2 linked regions of the Homo sapiens genome follow. The protein of the gene in region 1 interacts with the protein of each later gene in a pairwise test. Each region holds a gene or a part of one and is shown on either strand. Other genes may lie near its edges.

Evidence for each region. Proteins that work in one complex are often made in the same cells at the same time.
Region 2: the proteins of SOCS7 (region 1) and NSMF interact in binary tests that used the Homo sapiens proteins (3 or more experiments, as listed by UniProt).

Annotation. Positions count from the first base shown.
Region 1 is NC_000017.11:38,354,772-38,358,516, reverse strand, and holds part of SOCS7 (suppressor of cytokine signaling 7), read right to left. Parts: intron 1-3,745. UniProt on the Homo sapiens protein: Substrate-recognition component of a cullin-5-RING E3 ubiquitin-protein ligase complex (ECS complex, also named CRL5 complex), which mediates the ubiquitination and subsequent proteasomal degradation of target proteins, such as DAB1 and IRS1.
Region 2 is NC_000009.12:137,452,638-137,456,382, forward strand, and holds part of NSMF (NMDA receptor synaptonuclear signaling and neuronal migration factor), read right to left. Parts: intron 2,998-3,745; coding exon 2,992-2,997; intron 2,671-2,991; coding exon 2,602-2,670; intron 2,593-2,601; exon of another isoform or gene 2,450-2,592; coding exon of another isoform or gene 2,109-2,449; intron 1,807-2,108; coding exon 1,754-1,806; intron 1,184-1,753; coding exon 1,094-1,183; intron 544-1,093; coding exon 419-543; intron 183-418; coding exon 99-182; intron 1-98. UniProt on the Homo sapiens protein: Couples NMDA-sensitive glutamate receptor signaling to the nucleus and triggers long-lasting changes in the cytoarchitecture of dendrites and spine synapse processes. Part of the cAMP response element-binding protein (CREB) shut-off signaling pathway.

The DNA of each region.
Region 1 (3,745 bases):
TAATTAGAAAGCAACACTCTTCAAAGGTACTGATAACATTCTATTTGTTAAGTTTAGTGATGGGTACCTACATTTGTATTTTATTATTATTCAAAGACATACACTTTATATATCCCCTTTTGTATACATGAACCATTTGGAATGATAAAAGGCCATTCTAAGCTGACACACTATATTTTGGAGAGCAATATGAATAAAGGAATTTCAGATAACATTTTAAACTAACCCTCTATACTACATTCCCATGTTATTTATTCTTCCCCAGATCACCTCAAAAAGCATTAGGGTGCAAAGTTATACCCCTCTAACTTTGCCAGTAGACCACTTTCATCTTAGCAGCAACAAAGACTGGAGGAGTAGGGTGGGAAAGAATAGCATTTGGTGGGCTGTGCTTCAGGTGACAGAAAAGGACAGGGCAGCAGGCCTTAGGCAAAGGTCTTTGAGGCCAGCAGTCCTTTGTGTCAGCTAAATTACTGCCTATGCTGTAGGTAACAAAAAAACAGGATGCCTCTGTCCATTTCTACCCTGCAAATTATTAACTGTACTGCAACAGATTTATGGGATAAAGGAGTTAAAAGCATTAGACTAGACAGAACAACAACACATAGATGTAACCATTGGCTGGTTTTCAAATTCCTTGAAACCTAAAATAAAAACAATGAAAGAATAATAACCTATCTTGCCCATAAATCTCCTGTACTGATGCCCTAAGATTTACACATGTCCTTTTCTAAAGTAACTTCCAAACTAGGATGTCCAAATACCAGATTTTATGGCTCCAATGTACCTCTGCCCCTGCTAAAGCACACGGTGCCAAGTCAGCCAGCCTGTGCCATTTCCAACACGTCATAAGCCAGTGTCTGTTCATGTGCTACAGGCACAAAAACCATGTGTTCATTTTTAGTTCCAATACACAGACATCTGTGCAGCAAGGTCAGATCCAAAACTCCATCATAAACCAACTAAAGAACCTATAGAGGGAACTTCCAGGGAAAAGCCAAGAGGCATGGTCCAAGGTCTAAAACCTTAGAAATGATGTTGGCAGAGAGAATGTTAAGGAGTGAGAAGCACTGCACAGGACTCAAATGGACAGAGATTTTTTTTTAAGCCCAGGAGTTCGTTCTAAAGGAGAGCTGCCAACCACAACCACTTCATGGAAAAAATAGTTAAAAAGATCAACAGTGTGTGGACCCAAAACCCAAACATAAAATCAGAACTTCCTCGCCACACCATAAAATCATTTTGCTCTCAGCATGTCATGCTATTACTCAAAAAGATCCCTTTAGACCTGAAGACCCAAGGATACAGTGAAAAAAGTTTCTCACGTCTGCCAGGCCTGTCCACGACAGCAGGGCCCCAAATGGATGCCAAAGCAGCCTGCCTCTCTTTCCAGAATTCTATATTTTGTTTTTTTCCCCCCCAAATAAATAGATAGGAAACCACTACAGAACCGTCCTCCATTTCTCCACCTCACTACCATGAAGACAGCCAGTAATAGCCTCATCTGTTAACTTGGTAAAAAACAAATCTTGAAAAGTGAACAAGGTACCTATTTCCAACCAAGTGTGTATTACGTGATGATTCAAAATGGTCAGATCAAATTAGATCTCTCACCAAATCCAAAGGAAGGCAATCAACTCAACATATGAGAAACAGACATGGGAACTCCACTGGTTTTCCTGAAATAGCAATGCTAGATTACACTGAGGACCACAGGCATCAAGCCCAGCTCTTTGAATTCCAACATATGTGTGTTATAAGCCCTAGCCCAGTTCCCCAGAACAGAAACCTGATTAGTTGCTGGGCCCATTTCTTTCTTTCTTTCTTTCTTTCTTTTTAAAGAGATGGAGTCAGCTGGGCGTGGTGGCTCACGCCTGTAATCCCAGCACTTTGGGAGACTGCGGTGGGCGGACTGCCTGAGCTCAGGAGTTCGAGACCAGCCTGGGCAACACAGTGAAACGCCGTCTCTACTAAAATACAAAAAATTAGCCAGGCGTGGTGGCGTGTACCTGTAGTCCCAGCTATTCGGGAGAATGGCTTGAACCTGGGAGGCGGAGGTTGTAGTGAGCCAAGATCGGGCCACTGCACTCCAGCATGGGCAACAGAGTGAGACTCCATCCCCCCGGCCCCAAAAAAAAGATGGAGTCTGGCTCTGTTGCCCAGGCTGGAATGCAGTGGCACATCATAGCTTACTGTGCCCTTGAACTTCCTGGGCACAAGTAATCCTCCTGCCTCTGCCTTCCAAGTATTGGGACTACAGGTGCACACTACCACACCCAACTGGTGGGCCCATTTCTTACCTCACTTAAAAACAGTTATCTAAGTTGGCCAGACTTGGTGGCTTATGACTGTAATCCCAGCACTTTGGGAGGCCAAGGCAGGCAGATCACCTGAGGTCAGGAGTTCGGGACCAACCTGGCAAACATGGCAAAACCCCAGCTCTACTAAAAATAAAAAATAAAAAAATGAGCCGGGTGTGGTGGTGGGCCCCTGTAATCCCAGCTACTGGGGAGGCTGAAGCAGAAGAATCGCTTGAACCCGGGAAGCAGAGGTTGCAGTAAGCCAAGATCGCACCACTGCACTCCAGCCTGGGCGACAGAGCAAGACTCCACCTCAAAACAAAAAACAAAACAAAAAGACTTCTCTAAGCTAACTCATACCACACTGAAGACAATATATCCAGGTAGGTCCACTTACCAGACTCAAAAGCAACTAAAAGGAAGTTTTGCTTAGTGCTAAAATGTGGGAATTGTTAAACCTTCTAAAATGATTGTAGGAAGGCAGATGTTGGGAATAGCAAAGGGAATTATGCCCAGAGGTTACTGCAAAAGCCCCAAATTATACAGCAAAGACTATAGAAGCCCATAATTAACTCCAATCAACAATGAGGACAAAGGCATATACCCTTTGGCAAAAGACTGAAATTTCTCACCATTTCCAGGTCCTACCAATCAAAACAAGAGAACAAGCTAAAAATCCAAACTCATCCTCCCACTATTGCGGACTTAGGAGGTGCAGATCCACAGAAATCACAACTACCCTGGCCAGACTCACCAAGTTTCTCACAGCTGCGAGGCTGCCAGCAAGACTGGCACATAGTAAGCTGTCGAAAAGCTCACAAGCAGCACCAAATCCTAAGCATTAAAAAATTTACCAGCTCAGTCCTATTACTTATCTTCTAAAAAGCACAAAATATTCCATCTAGATTTCTCTTCTCAACAATCTACTCTTATAAGGACAGGAACAAGACAGTCAACGCTCACCCATTTTACAGATGGGGGAAAAAGGGAAGCATGAAGGTGACAAATTTGGTCATCTCCTAGCTGATGTTGGAGTTTACACGGAATCTAGACTTTCACATTCTCTATACAGCATGCTGCCTCCAAACAGCAGTCAACCAAACGTTTATACACAAATAACTAGCTCTTCTCCAATTCATCAAAAAAAGCCCTTGGACCAAAAAATGTAATTCTCCAGTGCCCTGAACTAAGCTTCTTTGCAAAGCTACAGCCCAATTTGCTCTGCAGCAGAAATCTGTATTGTGCTTAGTGTGAGGGTTGGTGACAGAGCAGCCAATGACCATTAAATTCTGCTTCCAAAGGCAAAAAACCGTATAATGTCATATGCCTTTTCCTCTTCCTAATCTATTAGACGTAGCAGCTAATTTCACGCCACACCTCGTATTTGGCGTCTCTGGAATCTCAGACGAACTCCTGGTCAATATGGAACAAAGGCAAGACAAACC
Region 2 (3,745 bases), on another chromosome or scaffold:
CAGCGCCACAGCACCCTGGGGACCTGGGGTGCCGGCGCTGGCCCAGGGTGGGGCCGCAAGAGGGCATCTGTTGGGGGCAGGCCCGGGGCGGGACTCACGTAGAGGATGGGGATGATGGAGGGGTCATCCCGGCGGATGATAGTGGGGATGTACTCAGCCTTGGGCACCTTGGAGGAAATGAGCTGCGGAGACAAAGAGCTGCTCAGGGGCCCCAGGCCCATCCAAAAGCCAAGGGGCTGTGGGAGCCCCCATGAGGCTACCTTCTGGCTGCCAGGCAGCCCAAGGGTATAGCCCTGTGAGACACCCTCCCCCAGGCAGCTGGAGAAGGCTGCGTGGTCCCAGGCAGAGCTGGCTGGACTCGGGTTGGGGCGGAGTCCTGCTCGGGGTGTAGAGGAGCACTGCCCGGGCTGGGCCTCACCATGACCTTTGGTGGCACGAAGCCTTCGGTGTCGCAGGCCACAGCCTCCAGGCCCTTCTCAGTGTCCCAGTCCAGGTCCTCGAAGGCCTCGTCCAGCGTGCAGTGGGAGCTCTGCAGGTCACTGCCTGGGAAGCAAGAGGGTCACCAGGACAGCAGGCCCGGCAGCACCTCCTATCCTGGCCATGGCCCCAAGGCCCACAGGGCCCGAAAGCCCCATCCCGGAGGGTCCTCCAAGCAAGTGGGAGGACCATACAGAGGTCGCCGCCAGCCCGGCAGGACAGGCCTGTGGACACCACTGGGCAGCGGCCTGATGTGGGAAGGGAGACCCTGGTGCGAGGCCGGTGGAAGGCGCGTGCAGGCATCAGCTCCAGCCAAGTCCGCCGGGCGCCTGGGAGGGAGTGGGGGCGGGCACCGCAGCCCCCTGCCCCTGAGGGCCTCTTGCGAGTGGCGGTGGGCACGGCCCTACAGGCGCCCCCGGCCAGCACTGCCGCGGCCGTTGTTAGCCCCGCCTTTGCGATCGGAGATGCTGAGGGCGTCCCCATCTCACAAACAGGTAAACCAAGATTCAGGAGTGCAAAAGCGCAGCCCAGCGGCCCTGGCAGGGGACCCCCAGCAGGGGTCTGGGGTCTAGGGGAGGCTCTGGGGAAGGTGGGCGGGCCTGTGCGGGGCACCTACTGTCTCGGGAGTCGTGGGAAGTGTCGGCTTTCATGGGGGTGGGGTCGCTCCAGGACCGGCTGAAGCTCCGCTCGCGCCGCTCAGCGAACGCTGCAGAGAGCAAAACCCGCATTAGCGAGCGGGTGGGGCGGGGCCTCGGGAGTCTCAGACCCCAGGCGAGGGGACCACAGGGGCCCTGGGCAGAGGAGGAAGCTAATGTGGGTGGGGTCTAAGGCACATGAAGCAGACACGGACCAGAGGCTCGGTTGGTTCAGGGGCAGGATCTGAGAACACTGGGGCAGGGCCAGAGGCGGAGTCTGGGAAGGGAGGAGCCTGGGCCGGGCTGGGGGCGTGGCTGGGAGGGGAGGAGCCTGGGCCGGGCTGGGGGCGTGGCTGGGAGGGGAGGAGCCTGGGCCGGGCTGGGGGCGTGGCTGGGAGGGGAGGAGCCTGGGCCGGGCTGGGGGCGTGGCTGGGAGGGGAGGAGCCTGGGCCGGGCTGGGGGCGTGGCTGGGAGGGGAGGAGCCTGGGCCGGGCTGGGGAAGTGGCTGGAAGGGGAGGAGCCTGAGGCAGGGCCCGATTGGGGTTGGGGCGGGGGTCGTTCTTATCGCAGCTAGCAGCAAGCAAAGCCCCAACCAGCCAAGCGCAACGCCGCCCCCCCACCCCCGCCGCACGGGGTCTTACTCTGGGCCTTCACCCTCCGGCTGCCGACCATGCGCAGGTGTTTGCGGAAGTTCCTGGGGGAGGAAGCCAGGGGCTGAAGAGGGCCGTGAGAGGGTGACGGCAGCCCCTGCCCACCTAGCCCCCGTCGGGTCATGGCTCTACTCTCACCCCTTCGGTGTGGGAAGCCAGTGCTCTCCCTGGCTCCTGGCACCACCTCCCACCCAAAGGCAAATCCCACCCAGTGCTCTTCCCGCGACAGCCTTCCAGGGCTCCCCTTCAACTCCAGAACAAAGGTGCAGTGCCTGGCGCTCTGGATCAAGTCTCCTCCCGAGCTGCATTCCCAGGCTCTGACCTTCCGTCCTCGCCCGGGACTTACGCCCTGAGCCTCCACGCCCATGTGGCAGAGGATCCAGCCTGCCTGCGCTGCAGCAGAGCGGGGCTCCTGTCTGCACCACCCCATGGCGGGCTGGGGGCCTGCAGGAGCCCCCTCTCCTGCTCTGTGTCCTTGAGCCACCTCAGGGGCAGGTCCTCTCCTCCACCAAACTTTGGACCCTGCCAAGGCCCAACATCCAAAACGGGCAAAAAAGCTTCCCAGACACATCTGTGTGATTGGAGTGGGGGAGGGGGGCCTTGCTGCTGGCCCCAGCCCAGACAGAGACACGTGCCCTCGGAGTGCAGGACTGAGGGTGAGATGCTTTCCTGCAGCCCGGGCCACATGGCCTCTCCTGCCTGCCACGTCCCCAGAGCAGGGCCAGGCCAGTGGTCGCCACCACCCTTCCCCCATCAGGTCTGCCAGGGCCGAGGGGGCCCAGGCCAGGCCAGCACAGACCAGAGATGGACCCTGGTGGCGAGTGGCTGGCAGGCCCTACCTCTGGATTACAGACGCGGAATCATTCTCCCGTTTCCGGCGCTTCCTCTCCGCGTAGCCCCTGAACACCCTGGGAAACCACCGCGAGTCAGCACTGCCCTTGGCCGGAGGCAGGAGGGACACAGACGTCGGGACAGTGGTGCGAGCAGAGGGCCCAGCAGGGCGTCTGGGGCACGGGGCCCGGCAGAGGAGTCCCAGCCTGCCTCACCTGTCGAGGCCCAGCTCCCAGCAGGCCCTGCTGCGACCTCGGTGCCCGCTGGGAGCCAGGCCCGCAGAGAGCGGCACTCCCTCAAGACCCAGGTCCCTGGCCTGCCCAAACCTATTTGGGGTGGGAGGGTCTCCCCAGGGACAACAGCTGTGCCCTTAGGCACCAAGTCATACAGGTACTTACGAGATGCTGAAGCCAGGGCCAGAAGGGATGGCGTGAGAGAGAAGACACAGTGAGCTCAACCCCGGGCCTCCCCTCAGCCCCCACCCGGTCCCTACAGTTCCCTTCTTGTCACTGACCCAATAGGTCCCTCACAGGTAACCCAGCCACCAGCAGGATGCTGGCTACACTGCTGGCCAGCCCTGAATGGGCAACGGAAGCTGATGTCACTGCAGCCCATGCCACAAGGACTGGTTGCTGAGACCAGGCAGCCTGAGGCTGGGTGTGGGGTGGACTCCCCCGGGCAGGACACTTCTTTGGTGTGGGGACCAATGCAGCAAAGGGAACTTCCCTGGAAGGAATCCCAGAACAGAAAAGCCAAATGTATGTCAAGACAGAGAGGAGCAGGTCCCTGCGGGGACCCTGAAACTGTGATGACCTATGGCACGTATGAAACAGAAGTAGGCTTCTATTTGGGGTTTGAGGGAGGGCAGACACAGGCTGAGGAGAGTGGATAGGAGCAGGAGAACCTGCCACACCCCACACCCCACTGAGAGCTCATCAGCTGCAGCCCTGGGCCAGGTCCCCTGACTGTGTGTGTGTGGGGGGGGGGGCTGGGCACCAGCCATGGGAGGGGAAGAGCAGTCAGCCCTGGCCTCCCTGGCAGGCCTGGCACAGCATAGGCACGTGGGTCTGTTCAGAAGCAGCCCCCCTGGTAGGCCCAGAGACTGGGAAAAAGTGCTGTTTCCTGAGCAGCAGAAAGAGACCACCCAACCCT